Regions from separate parts of the Homo sapiens genome. Here region 1 is linked to region 2. Evidence: fine-mapped expression QTL. A gene starts in region 2. The other region holds a variant in brackets. All regions are shown on one strand. Distances are from middle to middle. Region 1 overlaps EPHB2 (EPH receptor B2). Region 2 holds the start of EPHB2 (EPH receptor B2).

Evidence for each region.
Region 1: its variant is fine-mapped to the expression of EPHB2 in subcutaneous fat (GTEx, PIP above 0.99).

The regions. Positions count from the first base shown.
Region 1 is chr1:22,799,591-22,807,590 of GRCh38, forward strand. The region is part of intron 3 of EPHB2 (EPH receptor B2); the gene reads left to right. Among named protein-coding and RNA genes, the nearest start is that of MIR4253, 60 kb to the right of the region's middle. The variant G/A (reference allele first, on the strand shown) is at 3,152.
Region 2 is chr1:22,705,447-22,713,889 of GRCh38, forward strand. It overlaps EPHB2 (EPH receptor B2), which reads left to right and starts at 5,393. Exons shown (of 16, transcript NM_017449.5): 1 at 5,393-5,597. The coding sequence starts at 5,537. RefSeq lists a silencer at 4,080-4,365 and an enhancer at 6,587-6,686.

The DNA of each region.
Region 1 (8,000 bases), 94 kb after region 2:
GGCCCCTGCGATCTAAATGCTCGAAGTCATGACCATCCCCTTTTGCAGATGAGGGAACTGGGGTTCAGAGAAGCCAAGTGACTTGCTCCAGTCCACACAGCAAGTAAGTGGTTGTCACTGAACACAGGTCGTTTGGTGGAGCAGGAGGTATGACCTGGGTGAGGCTTAGGGGCCATGCAGAGCTATGTCTGTCGCTGTGTCCCCAGCAAATTTTGGGCCCAGAGCCTCATGGCAGCCTTAGAGAGAAAAGATTCCGCCCTGGGGTCTTTGCAGGCCTGACCTGGGACCTGTCAGGGTTATACTGGCTCCTTCTAGGAAACCAGCCTCAAGTTCCCAGTTCCCTCCCTTAAAGGCATTGCCATCTGATTAGCAACATTTTAAAGACCTAAGAGTGGTCACTGGCGTGTCTGTGCTGCCTGGGCAGGCCATGCAGCTTTGAGAGCCCCACATCCGTATCCCTGGCAACCCTGGCCCTGAGCTGCCCTCCCCCACACCCTGCTGTCAGAGCTGTCTGTCTGTGGGAGCTCCCCGGAGACCCGGGAGGGATGTGCACGCATGTGCTGGGTCAGCACAGAGCGTCCCTGTACGCATGCGTGTGCGCTGGGCCTGCTGGGAGTTGTTTGTGTGCCCATACGTGCACTAGCGTACCCACTGAGCCAGCCTCTGCACATGCTGTTGGAACGTCTCGGATCTATGGGCATGTACGTACATTTCAGGGGCGGGCTGCGCACAGAGCTTGCCTGTGTGGGTGACACTGGAGCCTGCTGGGAGCCATTCCTCTCCCTGTATTGGTGTGTTCCTGTGTCTGCCTGACCTGCCCCAGCATATGTGTGCAGGGAGGAGCACACTCATGAGTGTGCTGGATCAAAGCACACACCTAAGAATGTGTGGGTGCAGCCGTGGAGGGAGGTCCCCATCTGTGTGTACACGCCACTGCTGTTGAGTACGCTCACTGGGTCATGCAGGTGTGTGTTTGCATGGGTGCCCACCCACTCACAGGGAAATCAGCCAGAGTATTCAGATTCATGTGTACATCTGTATATTTTATCAAGCCAGATGTACGTGAAAATGGGTACTTGTTAGCATATGTGAGCCCTATCTGTGTGAGTATATGTGTGTGTGTGTGTGTGTGTGCACGCACATGGCTGGATCAATTTGTGGAGTGTGTGCGTGTGTATGTGACACACACACACACACACACACACACTCTCTCTCTCTTTCTGGGGACCAAGATATGTCAGGGCCATTGATTTTCTGTCTCTTAGAAATTCCCTTTGAGGTCCTATTCATGCCTCTTTCATGAAGCAAAATCAGTGGTTCCAGTGTTCTTAAAGCAAACCAGGCCTGTTTTGCGCAACGCTCCATCCCTGGCCCGCCCATCTCCTCCACCGGTTGTGCCTGCACACACACATATACCCACAGGACCTGCTTGTCGTGCTCAGGTGGGCACAGCAGCCCTGCAGGGGTACAGGGGGCAGGCTCCCTGGCCAGACTCTGCTGCTTTCTAGCTGTATGGCCTTGGCCATTTCCCGTCATTTCCTGAGCCTCGGGTTCCTCCTCTGCCCGATAGGCACAGGGTGGTGGTGAAGATGTGAGTGGTGAAGCCCCTGCCAAGGCTGGAGGTTCTCTCTCATCTGTCCCGGCTGTTACGTTTACGAAGCACTTTCATCTGGGGAGAGAGGCTTGTGTCTGTCCTCGCCAGGCCAGCAGAGGAGCTTTGGGAAGGGACACCCATGAATGCCCCCCTTCCTGTGGGCCCTCTGCTCCAAGCATTTTGCTGACATCCCTTCATTTTTATCCCAGCCACCGCCCTGGGTGGCAGCTGGTGTTATCCGCCTTCCACAGAGGGGAAACCGAGCCCCAGAGAACTGCAAGGGCTTTGTCGAACTTCACCGAGAGCAGGTGGCAAGCCAGGATTGGGACCCAGGTCCAGTGGACTCCGGAACCTTCCCACCGCATTCCAAGAACGCTTCCTCCAGCAAGCAGGAGTGAGAGGCCAGGCCTTAGAGGATGCCCAGACCCCACACGAGGGGATGGCCTACAGGCCCAAGGCACCATGTGGGCAGAGGTGCAGCATAGGGAAACTCCAGCCTAGAGGAAATAGGCCCTCAGCCTCTGTCACTTGCCTTGGGCTCTCCCATCCCATCCCCTTCCCCCTCCAGATGGGCAGCCCCTCGTGGGGTCCCCTCCCGCCCCCTCGTGCTGCAGTCTTTGTGGCCCAGGAAGAATGCCTCTCTTTATCTCCCAGACGCCCCTTCCCTTTGATTCTCCTCTACCCAGCGTTTCTGCTGACCTCTGCGTGTTGGGAATCCAATTAGAGGAGCGGACAGGGAGAGTGACAGCCGCGCCGAATCCCGCCTCAGCCCCTCCGAGCACGCTCAGCCAAGCTGCAAGCAGCGCGGGGCCTGCTTGTCATGCTGGGCCCTGCGCAGGGCTTTGTGGGGATTAGCTGCTGGGGGGTGGGGTGCTCGCAGATGGGACCAGAAGTGATGCTGGTGAATGTCACGTCCAGGCAGAGAGTGGAGGAGGGGGCCCGCCCAGTGTTGAATCCAGCTTGGGGAAGAGAAGAGAAGGGGGCTAGGGGGCAGACTAGCCTGGCCTATAGGAGGCCCATGGGGGAAATGATGGCCCAGTTGGGTTATTTGGTTCCCCATTTGAGGGTTGGAGGGTAGAGCTGGCAGCCAAGCTCAGCTGTGTCTACAGTGGAGTGGGCACCAGAAGGATTTCCACCTGGGAGGGGCTTTGGGGGATTGATTGGATTGCAGGGGTGGGTATTGACTCTTCATTTGCAAAACACTTTATGTATGATGGAGGTGGGGACCCTAAGAATGGGGAGGTGGCAGGCTTTGAGAGATGTGTCTAGAGAATCTGCCACCACCAGCCACCCCTTGGCAGGGCCACCAGTCTAAGGCCAAAGACTATGCCCTTCCCCAGCCAGCACCATGAAAGTTACCCTTCTGGTTTACAGCTGTGGAAACTGAGGCTCCGAGAGGAGAAAGGTCTGGCTCGAGGACACAAGGGTAGTCCGTAGCAGAGATGTCTCATCCCCCTGTCCACCCGCACCACCCAGCCCCACCCCCAACTCCCTGGACCTCCTGAGTGATGAGAGTCCCTGATGCCCTTCCCCACAGAGGGATATGGCATCTGAGGA[G/A]GTGGATTTCAGGCCCTCAGGGGAAGCAGTATCAGGTAGAATATGGTCTGACTCTCAGCTCACGGACCAGCAAATGCCCCTGCCCCTCTAGAAATGTGTCAGGCCTTGTGCTGGGCCAGAACACAGTGGGATCTGCCATGGCCTCTGCCCCCAGGAGCCCACAGTGGACAGAGACAAGGAGCCCCTGGTGCACAGAGAGGGTGGAGTGTGTGCATGGAGCAGTAAGGACTATGGGGACCCACTGGGGAGACTAGGACTAGGATGTGGGGATGGGACCACCCTGAGCCTGGGAGTCCCAGAGGCCTTTCTAGAGGAAGGGCCACCAGCACAGAGACCTGGAGGACAAGCAAGAAATAGCCTGAGGAGGCTCTGGCTATCCTAACCTGAGAGGCAGGGTAGTTGTGGGGCTTCTAGGGGAAGGGCATCTCCTGTCCCTCAAATCTTTGTGCTCATTCCATAGCTGCCTGGGCCGGGCAGGACTGACCCACCTCCCACCCGCTGCCCTAGTGAGGCTGCACAGCTGCAGCCGCTGTGGAGTTGGCAGCCACTGGATGTTCAGGATCTTCTGTAAGAATCGTGGTTAGGCCGGGCACAGTGGCACACACCTGTAATCTCAGCACTTTGGGAGGCTGAAGCTGGAGGATCACTTGAGCCCAGGGGTTCAAGACTAGCCTGGGCAACATGGTGAAACCCCATCTCTACAAAAAAATTAAAAATTAGCCAGGTGTGGTGGTACGCACTTGTAGTCCCAGCTACTAGGGAGGCTGAGGTGGGAGGATCACTTGGGCCAGGAGGTCCAAGCTGCCGTGAGCCATGATCTCACCACTGCACTCTAACCTGGGCAATAGAGTGAGACCCTGTCTCAAAAAAAAATAATATATATATATATGTGTATATATATGTGTATATATATATATGTGTATATATATGTGTGTATATATGTATATATATGTGTGTATATATATGTATATGTGTATATATATGTATATGTGTGTGTGTGTGTATATATATATATATATAAATTAGCTGGGGTGTGACGATGCATGTTTGTGGTTCCAGCTACTAGGGAGGCTGAGGTGGGAAGATCACTTGAGCCTAGGGGTTCTAGGCTGCAGTGAGCTGTGATTGCACCAGTGCACTCCAGCCTGGGCAACAGAGTGAGACCCTGTCTCAAGAGAAAAAAAAAAAGTGTTTAGAGATAGTGGTTAGGAGGCCACAGTGCCACAAGCCAACCTTAGAGATCTGGAATTTCTGTGGTGGTGCTAGGCACATTCCATACACATCTTCACCAATCCCTGGGAGCAGGAGTTGCCCACCCCGTCTTACAAGTGAGAAAACAGGTTCCAAGAGGCAGAAGGGCTTGTGCGGTCTCACAGAGCACATTAATGGAACTGCCTTTTACACTCAGGACCGCATTAGACCTTTCCCACCATCCCAGGCTGCCGCGGCCAGTGTAGGAATGAGCTTATTGGGTTGGCTGGTTTGGTCCTCCTGCCCAGCACTGTGCCTGCCACACAGGAGGTGCTTAGTGGGTGGGGGATGGATGCATGGATGGAGAAAACCAATCAATCAATCAATCAATTCTTCCTTACCTAGTGCCTTTAAGGAAAAAATCTGCACCACCCCCCATCCTGCCAGCGAAGGCTGTATTAAATATGAATTAATCTTTCAGCTCAGTTCTCATGAATATAAAATGCAGAGGGTGTGTGAAGCCAAGAGATCAAGACGAGACACCCCAGTCTGCCTGGGCCTGAAAGCGCACGCTCACACCCACTCACACTTGGAAGTGCATTCTCACAGTCATGCAGACTCACTCACAGTCCTCAGCCACCCTCCTTAGCCCCTCTAGGAACCTCCCCGCCCCACCCTGCCCTGCTCAGTTGGGCCCCTTCCAGGTCAGGCTTCTCTGGGCCACCACTGGCCCAGCTCTTTCCCATCCCACACCCTTCCCGCCCCTCCCAGCTCTCTGAACTTGACTCTTCCCTCCCACCTGCCTCTTCTCTCCTTCCTCCCCTTGTCTCTTTGCCCCCGCCTCTGTCCCCTGCTCCTTCAGTGTCCTCTTGTCTTCCTTTTCCTTGTCTTAGTCTCTCCATCTCCCCTCCTCTCTGTTTCTCTCTCTCCCTCCCCTGCCTCCCCACTTGTCTCTCTCCCCGTCTCTCTAGCTCCCTCCCCATTTCCTTCTCTAAGGGGACCACTTGCCTGTGCCTGGACATGCCAGGGACCCTGGGCAAATTGTGGGCTAGAGAGTGAATCCTCCCTCCTCAACCCAGACACATTGGGGTCAGGACATGCCCCCCAACCTCCCCCTCTAGCAAGGGGCACAGGTACCTACATACCAGGGCCACACCTTGCCCCCTCTCCTTGCCCCCACCACCTCCCAGGGCTGGCATCCTGCAGGTACGGGATGAGCCATGCACCCGGAGTCCACACCAGACATCTGTCAAATCCATGTCCCACAGGGGGCCTGGCCTGTTGATTCTGAAGGACTTCAGAAAATGGATTCTAAAGGGACAGAAGTGTGTCCTGGTTCGAGGTGACCCCATTTGTGTGTCTCTGAGCCGTACGCAGTCTCTCTCAGCCTCAGTTTCCCCCCCAGGCCCTTGAATAAATTAAACGAGGGGCTGCCAGCCCAGAGTGGGCTGAGATAAATGTCTCCTGACCTCCTGTGGTACTCCCCAAGGTGAACATTCCAGACCTGCCACTCCCCTGTGGCCTGACTCAGGCCCTCCCTTTCAGGAGCTGACCTCCCTCCCACTGCCTGAGGACTCTGGCACAGGATGCTCTCACCCTCTGCCCCTCTCCCCACCTCTCTACAACCACCCAGTCCAGACAGCTGGGCTGGAGGGGATCAGAGACTGTGAGCAGCCACCTCCCACCCATCCTGGACCCAGGGTCAGCAAGGAGCGGGTGGGGGTGCAAAGGCTGTGATTCTTTTGGGTGGGAATGGGGGTGAGGGTGAGAATCAGGCAGGTGCATGTACATGTGTGTATGAGAGAGAGAGAGAGATTGGGAGGGAGAGGGAGCTCACTAGCGCATATGTGCCTGCCAGGGGGGCTGCAGATGTGTCTGAGGGTGAGCCTGGTGAAAGAGAAGACAAAAGAATGGAATGAGCTAAAGCAGCCGCCTGGGGTGGGAGGCCGAGCCCATTTGTATGCAGCAGGGGGCAGGAGCCCAGCAAGGGAGCCTCCATTCCCAGGACTCTGGAGGGAGCTGAGACCATCCATGCCCGCAGAGCCCTCCCTCACACTCCATCCTGTCCAGCCCTAATTGTGCAGGTGGGGAAACTGAGGCTGGGAAGTCACATAGCAAGTGACTGGCAGAGCTGGGACTGGAACCCAACCAGCCTCCTAGACCACGGTTCTTCCCATCAATGGAATGCTAGAGACTCCAGCCAGGTACAAAGTTGGATAAATGAAAGAATGAATAATAGCCATTGATGTTTGTAAAGTGCACAGGGCAAACACTTTATAACTCAGTAATCACCCCCCTTTTACAGGTGGAAAAACTGAGGTGCACAGAAGTGATGTAACTTGCCCAAGTTTATACAGCTAATAAGTGGCAGAGCCAGGATTCAAGCCAGCAGGTTCCAGAGTCTGTGCTCACTGTACCTCTTAGAATACCAAGTCCTTGAACCGCAGGAATTGCCACATTTCTGTGCCCCCGGCTCTGAGCACTGGCTAGGCACATAGCAAATGCTCAACAGTGCTTGCTGAGTCAATGAGTGGATGGATGGATGGACGGACGGACGGACGGACGGACGGACGGATGGATGGATGGATGGATGGATGGATGGGAAAGGAGTTCACCATGAGGATGGCTTCCCAGGCCCCAGGATCCCAGCTTCTCAGCACAGTAAGGTCCTACTGCGTGTGCTTGGCTCCTGCCGCCCCTATTCCCACCCCCGCCAGGCAGGTGTTAGCTGTGCCCTCCACAGGGCCAGGCCCCACAGGGACAAAGCCGAGGGCGCGCCTGGGCGGCCCAGCGCCTGCATAGGCTGAAGCTGCTAACAGGCTGGAAATCTCTTTTGTCAAAGCCTGCACTGCCTCCAACCTCCTTTAATTAAAGACAATTAGTGCTTTCAGCCCCTCTGCACAGCTCAGCTCCCCTGTTTGCAAACACACAGCTGCGGGAGCTTTGTGGGCCCCCCCTCGTCACCACCCCCCAGCCCTACTTCCCCAGAGACACACAGAGGTGCCTTTATTATCAGCACTCCGGCTGCAGCACCAAGAGGCAGGCGCCTCTGCTTAAAGGAAGGATGGGAACGCTTCCCAGCTAGGCGGGGGAGCAGGAATAGTTGAGGACCCTGGGGTGGCCTGGCACATGTGGGCCATGGGTCCCACGCTTCGAGGAACAGCCACTTGGGGCACCTCTGAGGGACCTGTCACCTCCCCTTCTCCCCTTCTGTCTCCTCTGCTCCTCTGGGCCTGCTTCCTGGAATTTGGGCTGTCCACATGTTTTCTCCCAGAATCTTGTCTCTGACTTGGGCACTGTAGGGTGTAGATGCTGGCCCTGAGTACTACCTTAGGAAGGAAGGAAAAGGGAGAAATGGCTTTTATTGAGCACCTGCTGTATGTTAGGGCGCTTGCTAGACTCTGGCTCTACACACCATCATTCTGAAATATCCCCATTTTATAGATGGAGCTGCCAAGGCGCTCAGAACGGCTTGGTGACTTGGTCAGGCATGACAAGGACATAGCAGAACCAGCATTTAAGGTCAAGCTTTCTGGCCTGAGCATACTGGTTGGATCTACGCATATGAGGAGCCCAGCCTCCTAGAAGTCAAAAGGTCAGCTGGTCCAGCTCCCTCCCAGCCTCTACCCCCATGGTCTGAGCATGTGCCATGTGTACT
Region 2 (8,443 bases):
TGTCTATTGAATACTTGAAATGTAGCTAGTGCAAGTTGAGCTATGCTGAAATATAAAATGCATGCTACATTGCAAAGGCTTCGTGTGAAAAAAGAATGTAAAATGGTTCATTCATTACATGCTGAAATGATAATATTTTGGATATATTGGGTTAATAAATATATTAAAATTAACTCCATCTATTTCTTTTTCTTTTTTTTAAATATGCCTACTAGAAATGGTTTAATTATATGTGGGGCTTAGATCATATTTCTATTGGACAGTGCTGGTTCATGAGCTTCATGAGGGTAGATCTGGGGCTCTCAACTCAGGCCCAGAAAGGGGAAGAGCCCTGTCTGAGGTCACACAGCCAACTGGTGACAGAACTAGAATTTGAGCCATGTCTCTGTACATTTATGCAGCCAATAGACACAGGAAAAAATGCTCATCATCACTGGCCATCAGAGAAATGCAAATCAAAACCACAATGAGATACCATCTATACCAGTTAGAATGGTGATCATTAAAAAGTCAGGAAACAACAGATGCTGGAGAGGATGTGGAGAAATAGGAACACTTTTACACCGTTGGTGGGACTGAAAACTAGTTCAACCATTGTGGAAGACAGTGTGGCGATTCCTCAAGGATCTAGAACTAGAAATACCATTTGACCCAGCGATCCCATTACTGGGTATATACCCAAAGGATTATAAATCGTGCTGCTATAAAGACACATGCACACATATGTTTATTGAGGCCCTATTCACAATAGCAAAGACTTGGAACCAACCCAAATGTCCATCAATGATAGACTGGATTAAGAAAATGTGGCACATAAACACCATGGAATACTATGCAGCCTTAAAAAAGGATGAGTTCATGTCCTTTATAGGGCCATGGATGAAGCTGGAAACCATCATTCTGAGCAAACTATCACAAGGGCAGAAAACCAAACACCGCATGTTCTCACTCATAGGTGGGAATGGAACAATGAGAACACTTGGACACAGGTGGGGAACATCACACGTCAGGGCCTGTTGTGGGGTGGGGGCAGTGGGGAGGGATAGCATTAGGAGAAATACCTAATGTAAATGACGAGTTAATGGGTGCAGCACACCAGCATGGCACATGTATACATATGTAACAAACCTGCACGTTGTGCACATGTATCCTAGAACTTAAAGCATAATAAAAAATATATATAGTAAAAAAAAAGAAATTCCCCCTGGCCTGGCACTGGCTGTAGGGATGGTTTGACCCACAAATGGCCATGTGACCCCATCAATCCTGCATCAGTCAGCAAAGCCACTGGGATGGGAGTCAGAGACTTGGGTACACCGAGAGGGGATGTCTATTCTATGTTTTCTCTGGGCTCTGCCACTCAGTGTAACATGTTTCCCCCCTTCAAGAGCCCCACTACCTTTCCCCTCAGGAAGAAGGAGCCTCAGGGAAAGCAAAGGGAGCCTAGAGCTCATTGGCATCCTCTGGTATGGCTGAGATCCTCACCAAGGTCCTGTTGCCCCCACTGAATCCACGACAAAGAGAGGGCTGAAAGTGGCCTCAGAGAAACCACCTTGGCCAATGCCCTCATTTGGCATTTGTGGCAAGTGGGGCCCAGAGACGGTGAGTACCCTGCCCAAGGTCACACAGTAAGTTAAGGGAGGGCTAGGGAGTTAAGGGAGTCAAGTTAAGGGAAGCAAGTTAAGAGAGCCCCTGGTGTCTCCATCTAGGGGCTCTAGAGGCCAGCCCAGCCCCACAGACCGGGAGGATGGTGGCATGGGTTAACACATGGGGTCCCCCAGGCCCTGCTCAGCCAAGTTCATGCTATTTCCTCTACCTCCAATCTATCCAGTCTCAACTTATAATCCTCCATGACTCCCCCATTGAGGTTAAACTACAATCCATATTCTCCCTCCCTGATGTAACCTCCTCCACGCTCCAGTTGATTGCCGTACTTCAGCTCCTATTCCCAGAGGGTACCCAGTGTGTTCCCACCTCAGGGCCTTTGCCTCTGCAGTTTCTTCCACCTGGAGCTCTCTTCCCACATGTTGGCATGGTAGACTCCTCGCTGTCCAGCTTTTAGCTGCCATGTTGCCTAAGAGGCCTTCCCTGATTCCCCTGGCCAGAGCAGCCCCCTGCCCTCCGTCAATCACTGCCCCATCACCCTGGTCATTATCTTTCTCGCACTTACCATTATCGTTATTAGCTTGTCCCTATATAGGTCTCTCTGCAGCAGAATATAGGCTCCCAGAGAGCAGGGCCTTGTCTGGCAGGTCCACAGCTGCGTCCCTGCCTCCTCAGTGCCTGGTATGCAGGAGGTGCCCAACTAATGTTTGTCAATCAACTCTGATTGAAAGAGACCTAGACAAGACAGGTCACTGAAGCCTCACTCCAGCTGCACCAAAAACAAACAAAAAACCCCAAACCTTCCACATGTCTTTGGGCAAGTGGCCCCTCTTTGGGCCCCAATTTCCCCGTCTGAAAAATGGCGTTCCCTGGCTGCCGGGCTGGCTCGCAGGATAGGCTGGTTGAATTAGCATGAGTCGAGTTGATGGGTGTGAACGCTGCTTTGTAAACTGTTAAAGCGTGATTGCAAATTCGAGTAGCTGTTGTCATTAGACAAATGAAGCTTAAACCGCCTCCTCCTCTGCTGAGGAGGGGATTGGGTCAGATGCTCCCTGGGGCCTCCTGCCCTGGCAGTGTACAGTATAGTTTTGCATCCAGGCACTGCCCTCATGGAGCTCACAGTCGGCTGGAGTTGTAGAGATAACGTGCAAATCAGAAACAATCCATCAGAGAAACCAGCAATGGACCATGTGGGGCTGATTATCTTTCAGGGAACAGATAATAGGCAAATAGGTCAGTCAGAGAGGGGTGAGGCGAATGTCAATTAAGCTCTTGGTGGGGGCTGGGGTGAGGCTGAATCCAAGTCTTTAGAGCCAAGAAGGCAACCAGGTGGAGTGCACAGCTGGGACAAAAGCACAGCTAAAGGCGGTTGCCAAGAAATCAGGGAGGAGAGCCTGGCCAGACTGCAGAACCCAGCCACCCCAAATGGGGAATAAAATACTGTTTAGAGAGAAGAGGATGTGAGAGAAGGGGAACTTAATTATGATCAGTAATTTTCTATTTTTGCCAGGTAAAGGCCCTGGATAGATGTCTATTTCATCAGATAACGTTGGGTGAGTCACTTTCCTTTTTAGGCCTCAGTTTCCTTATCTGTGAAATAGCCTGTGGGAAGAGCCCTGAGCTCTGTGCTTCTGTGAAAGGTACAAGGAGGTCAGCACTGGGGTCGGACGGACATGGGGTTGAATCCTAGCCCAATTTGCCATGTGACTTTGGACAAATTACTTATCTGGTCCTCAGTTTCATCATGTGAAAAGATCAGCACCTGGTGCACAGAGTAGGAAAGATTAAGGGGGACAAGAAATAAACAAAGCCCAGCCTAGTGCCTGGTACCATGTCCTCAATAAAGCAGAGTCACTGGTCTTCCTATTTTGAGACAAAAAGGAAGTAACCACTGGCCCTGGGTAGGTGGAGTCAAGGGTCCCAGGAAATAGAAACAAAGCAAAAAAGCTGAATCTGCACAGTACATAATAGGTGCTCAATAATGACTTCTTGAATTTGGAAGTGTCTAGCACCTGGATGCACTGGAGGGGGCCAGAGCTTAGAGCTGCTCTGTCCAGGAGAGGGAGGATTGCCTCAAGATGGGCCAAGCTTGGGGTCCCTCAAACCCTGGGTCTCCTGGAAGGTCTGACAGGCAAGAACTGAAAATAAAGGCTAGCCCCACCCCAGTGGATCTTGACCCTGGTGAGGGGTCTGTAGACTTAAAAGGGGGAATCTTCGTTTCTCCTCTCTCCCTGCTCACTCAAATAGGAACGGTAGTGGCTCTGCCAGCCCCACCCCACTGGCTCTTGACCCTGGTGAGGGGTCTGTAGGCTTAATAGGGGGAAATCTCCTGTTTCTCTTCTCTCCCTGCTCACTCCTGTTCTGTCTCCCTCCCAGGCTGCCTCCTCCTGGTGGCCTTCCAGGATGACACCCATTTCAACTGGACTCTTGGAGCTTCAAGAGACGACCCAACTTTCCAAACCTTAGATGGATTCCCAAAGCCTGTGGTACCCCATTTTCTTGGTATGGACTGAAGGGGAGGGATTGCTGGGACATTTTGATAGTATGTGGGACAAAGGGACACAGGAGATGTGGGTAGCATAGACTTAAACTGCCTTCGACTTAAACCACCTGCTCCTGCACTGGGCTCCTCCACTCACTCCACAGAGTTCCGAGCTCCTGATGAAGTCTCCTCAGTCAGGAGTGGGCTCCCAACTGCCAGGGGTTCAGCCTGGGTGATTGCCGCAGGCCCCCTGCAGCCGCCCACCATCCAGACTTCAGTAAAGTCTGTTAATGATGATGGTGATGAAGGCTGTCAGAGCAGGGCAGGGCCCACAGGGTTGGGGCTAGGGTTGTGTTCTCCCTGAAGGGACGGCCATGCACAAAACCACGGCTGCACAGACAGGTCCATTCCACAGCGTGGGGGTGGCTGGGGCTTTCCCCAGATTCACCCATGGACTTCCTTCACCCCATCCCCAAACTGCACTGGGAGCAAGATCAACAGAGAAGGAGAAATCTAATACAGACATAGACGAGTCTGCAGTGAGGGGCTCGCGGGCCAGCTCAGAACAACGGGGCAGGGAGGGGAGGCCTGGGGTCTGCCTGCAAGGGCCCAGCCCACCAGTGCCGAGTGACCACCCTCCCCCCAGCCCCACCCCAGGCCCTCGGGTAGCGCCAAGGCCCAGTCTCCCACTCGGAGGCCCCGGCCCAGCCCCGGTGCCTGGGAAAGCCGCCTGTTTTGTTCCCAGATGCCACCCCCCCACACACACCCTTTTTTTTTTTTTTCCATTCATTGCAGTTCGGTCCCTTTCGAAGCCGCAGGGACCCGGGTGGCAGGGCTGAGGCGAGGGGGTGGGACTCCCTGCCCTGACAGGTAGTGCCGGCCCCCGCTTTGGGAAGCCCCTTCCCCCGCCCTCCCCTCCGTCCGCTCTCCCTGCCCCTGTCAGCCGCGCCAGACGCTCTCCGGCTTTGCAGCATTCAATAAAAATTGAGAAACATTTGGGCTGAAATCGCTGCTTTATCTGGAGGAGCCACAGCGCCGGGAGAGACCACTGCTGCGCGGGGGGAGCCCGGGGTCTCAGTGGCCCGGGCACGCGGGGTCGCCGCGCTCCAGCGCCCGCGCTGCCCCCGGGTGACCCTACGGGCGCGGTGTGGGGACCCGGGCTCGCGGCGGCGCGCGGCCGCCGGGGGCCGGGACGCGCGCGGGGGGCGGTGGCCTGGCGAGGCTCCCCCCGCGCCCGCGGCTCAGGTGGGCCGTGCCCAGCGCTGGCGGAGCCCGGGTCCCCGTTCTGCCCGGGCTGGATGGCTCATTCTGCTGGCTGCGCGGTGGCGGCGGCTGTGTGTGCGCCGCGCCTTGCCGCCCCCCCTGGCCCCCCGAGCCCGGGGCGCGCGCTCCCGCCCGGGCCGTCCGGGCCCCGCGGCGCCGCGGCCCGAGGCCCCGGGAAGCGCAGCCATGGCTCTGCGGAGGCTGGGGGCCGCGCTGCTGCTGCTGCCGCTGCTCGCCGCCGTGGAAGGTGAGCGAGCGGGCGGGCGGGCGGGCGATGGGGGCGGGGAGCGGCCGGGCACGGGCGGCCGCCGGCGCCCACCTCCGCTCCGCGGCCCGCAAAGTTTGCCCGGGGGCCGGCGCCGGGCGCAGGTGGCCGCGGGGAGGTGTGTCCGGCCGCGCCGGGAGGAGCGGGCCCCGCGGGCGCCCGGGGAGCGGCGGGCGCTGATTGACTGTGCCAGGAGGAGGCGAAGGGACCATCTTGCCGAGGCTTTGTAGCCAGCCCGGCGAGCGCCGCCCAGGGCTGGGGGCTGCCCACGCGCGCTCGCCGCCCCCGGCTCGGGCAGCCGCCTCGCGCCGGCCTGGTCTTGCTCCGCACAGGGTGGAGGGGCGCGGGCCCGGCCGTGGCGGGGGGCGGGGGGGGCGCCGGCGCTCGGTCGGGGCTGGAAAGTTTGGCAGGGAGCAGAGGGAGGGAGGCACCGCGGCCGGCCGGGGTGGGGGCTCCCGGCCCGCGCCCCCGAGATGGGGCCCGGCGCCCCGGAGAGCAGGGACTGGCAGAGTGGAAGGGAGCGCGCCAGCCCCCGCGTCGGTGCCTGCCCATCGCCCGCGGCGTACAATGGGGTCCCCTCCCCGAGAGGACTGCGCGGGGGATGGGTCTGTGGGCATCTCTCCGCCGCGCAAGGTCTCCGGGCACCCCCGCCGGCCACCGCCCCGCGGCCGCGGCGCTCAGCGTGGCGGCTGGAGCCCCGGGAACTCTCCAGCTGCCGCCGGGGCCGGACCAGATGCTCTTGCCATGTGTTGGCCTTGGCCAGGGTCGCGGGCCCTCTCCCCGTGGCCTCGTGTATTGGTACCACTCGACCCCCAGGGGGGCAAGGGTAGTTGCTAGGTCTCCCGAGCCAGCTTGCTCTGGAGGGAAAGTTAGTGCGGTCTGGGTGTGTCCACCAGGAATGGCCGAGCTTGCAGGGCAAGAAGCGAACGTGAATAATGGTTCTCACGTGTACTGCACTTTACAGTTTTCAAACCACTTTACAGTTTATGAAGTACTTCGCACTATACGCAGCTCTCTGTGGTTTACAACGTGCTGCACAGTTGACAAGGTACTTTAAGCTTTACAAAGTGCTTTCCCGCCCACCAGCGTGTTGGATCCCTCAAAATACACCTTCCGGGGAAGACAGGTAGGTATGATTCCTACTTCTCTTGAACAGATAGGGAAACCGAGGTTCTGAAAAGTCCGATGTCTCACCCAGGGCCGTTGGGTGACAAAAATAGAACCCAGGTCTGTGGTCTTTCTTTGAAACCAGCACTCACTTAGCTGGGTTTTGTTGCCCCTAAACTGCGTGAGCCCTTCCAGGGTTCTGCTCCCTTGGGCTTAGGGATGATGTCTGTGTGCACCTCTCAGGCCACTTTAGGGTTGTGGGGCGCCCCTTCCCTTCTTGCAGCCTAAGAAAAAACGCATATCAGACCAGACGTGGGGGCTGCGGCCTCTGGGAAAGGCGTCGTGGGGGACCCTGTGCTACAACTTCAGTTTCTCTTTCGGTAATGAGCACTTTAGTGACCGCAGTCAGGGGGTGGGGGGTGTCCCTGGATGGCAGCCACAGTTTCTGGCACTGAGGCAGCTGTCCTTCGGCTCCTGGGGGATTTGGCGGCTGACTGCGGTTTCCCGGAGTGGGGCCACTGGGGCACCTAGGGTGCCACGGGCCCTGGGTGTGGAGGGCAGCCCTGGGGCCTGGCTGCTGGCGGGAGCTCTGTGGAATATGGCTGAGGTACCACTTATTAACTCTGGCTTTGGGGAAATGACTCATGCGTTGGCCCGCTATACATTGGGATGTTTACAGTATTATGGGGAGCTTGGCATAAATATTGCTATTTAGGTTGCAGTCAGCGGTGCTGGAGGGGAAGAAAATTGGCCCCTCTCTCGTTGGAAGAGGCCTGGGTGTGTTTTTAATTACTCTGGGGTAGATGGAAGGGCCACATCTGTCCAGCCATCGCCCTGGCAGAGGCTGGTTGGAATCTGGTGGGCTGTGGCCAGCCTGGACCCTGGCCCTGGACACAGGGCTGGTGGGCGCTGACGTCACAGGAGGGTATGGCTACTTGGACTGCCACTTGGGGGCAGGGTGGGGAAGGGAAGCCACAGCAGGGTGGGAGGAGGGCTGCAGCAGGCACCCCAATGCTTGCCTCAGGCTCTTGTTCCGTTTGCCCCCTGGACACTAGGAAGTTAGTCCATCAGTGGTTAATAAGGAGCTGGCCGAATGGATGGGGAGATGGTGTGAGGTGGAGGTCAGAGGGCCTGCTTCTCATTTACTATGGGACCCTGGGCCAGGTCCCTTCCCTGTGGGGGCCTCAGTTTCTCTGGGTGTAAAATGGCCTGGCTAAATATCTTGTAGAGTCCATCGTCTACGCCCTACTTCCCCTCTTTGAGCCTCGTTTTCCTCCCCCGTCTAGTGAGAGTGATGACAGCGCCTGTCCTGCCTGTCTCCTGGGGTGTTTGTGAGGATCAGACCAGATGATGGGTGGGAGAAGTCCCCCTTCAAAGCCAGGGATGGACGGTGCTGCCTGTGCACATTTGGGGGGCGGTGCTGCCTGTGCACATTTGGGAGACACCAGGGTCCTCCTGAGGGTGACACAGTCTGTGGAGACAGGACTGGGCCGTGGAGCAGTAGGAGGGTGGCCCCTCTGGCTCCCAGAACCCAGAGCCACATGGCTACCACTTCCTTCCCTTCCTCCTTCCTTGTCTCCTCAGCCCGTAAAGGGCTGTCCTGCCGGTTAAGTCCCCAGGAAATCCCCAGCTCCAGCCTTCGGAATGGGGGAGAGGAGAGTGTGTGTGTATACGGGGGGTTTCTAGGTTAGGACGGTAAGCTTAGCATCTCCCCCAAACTG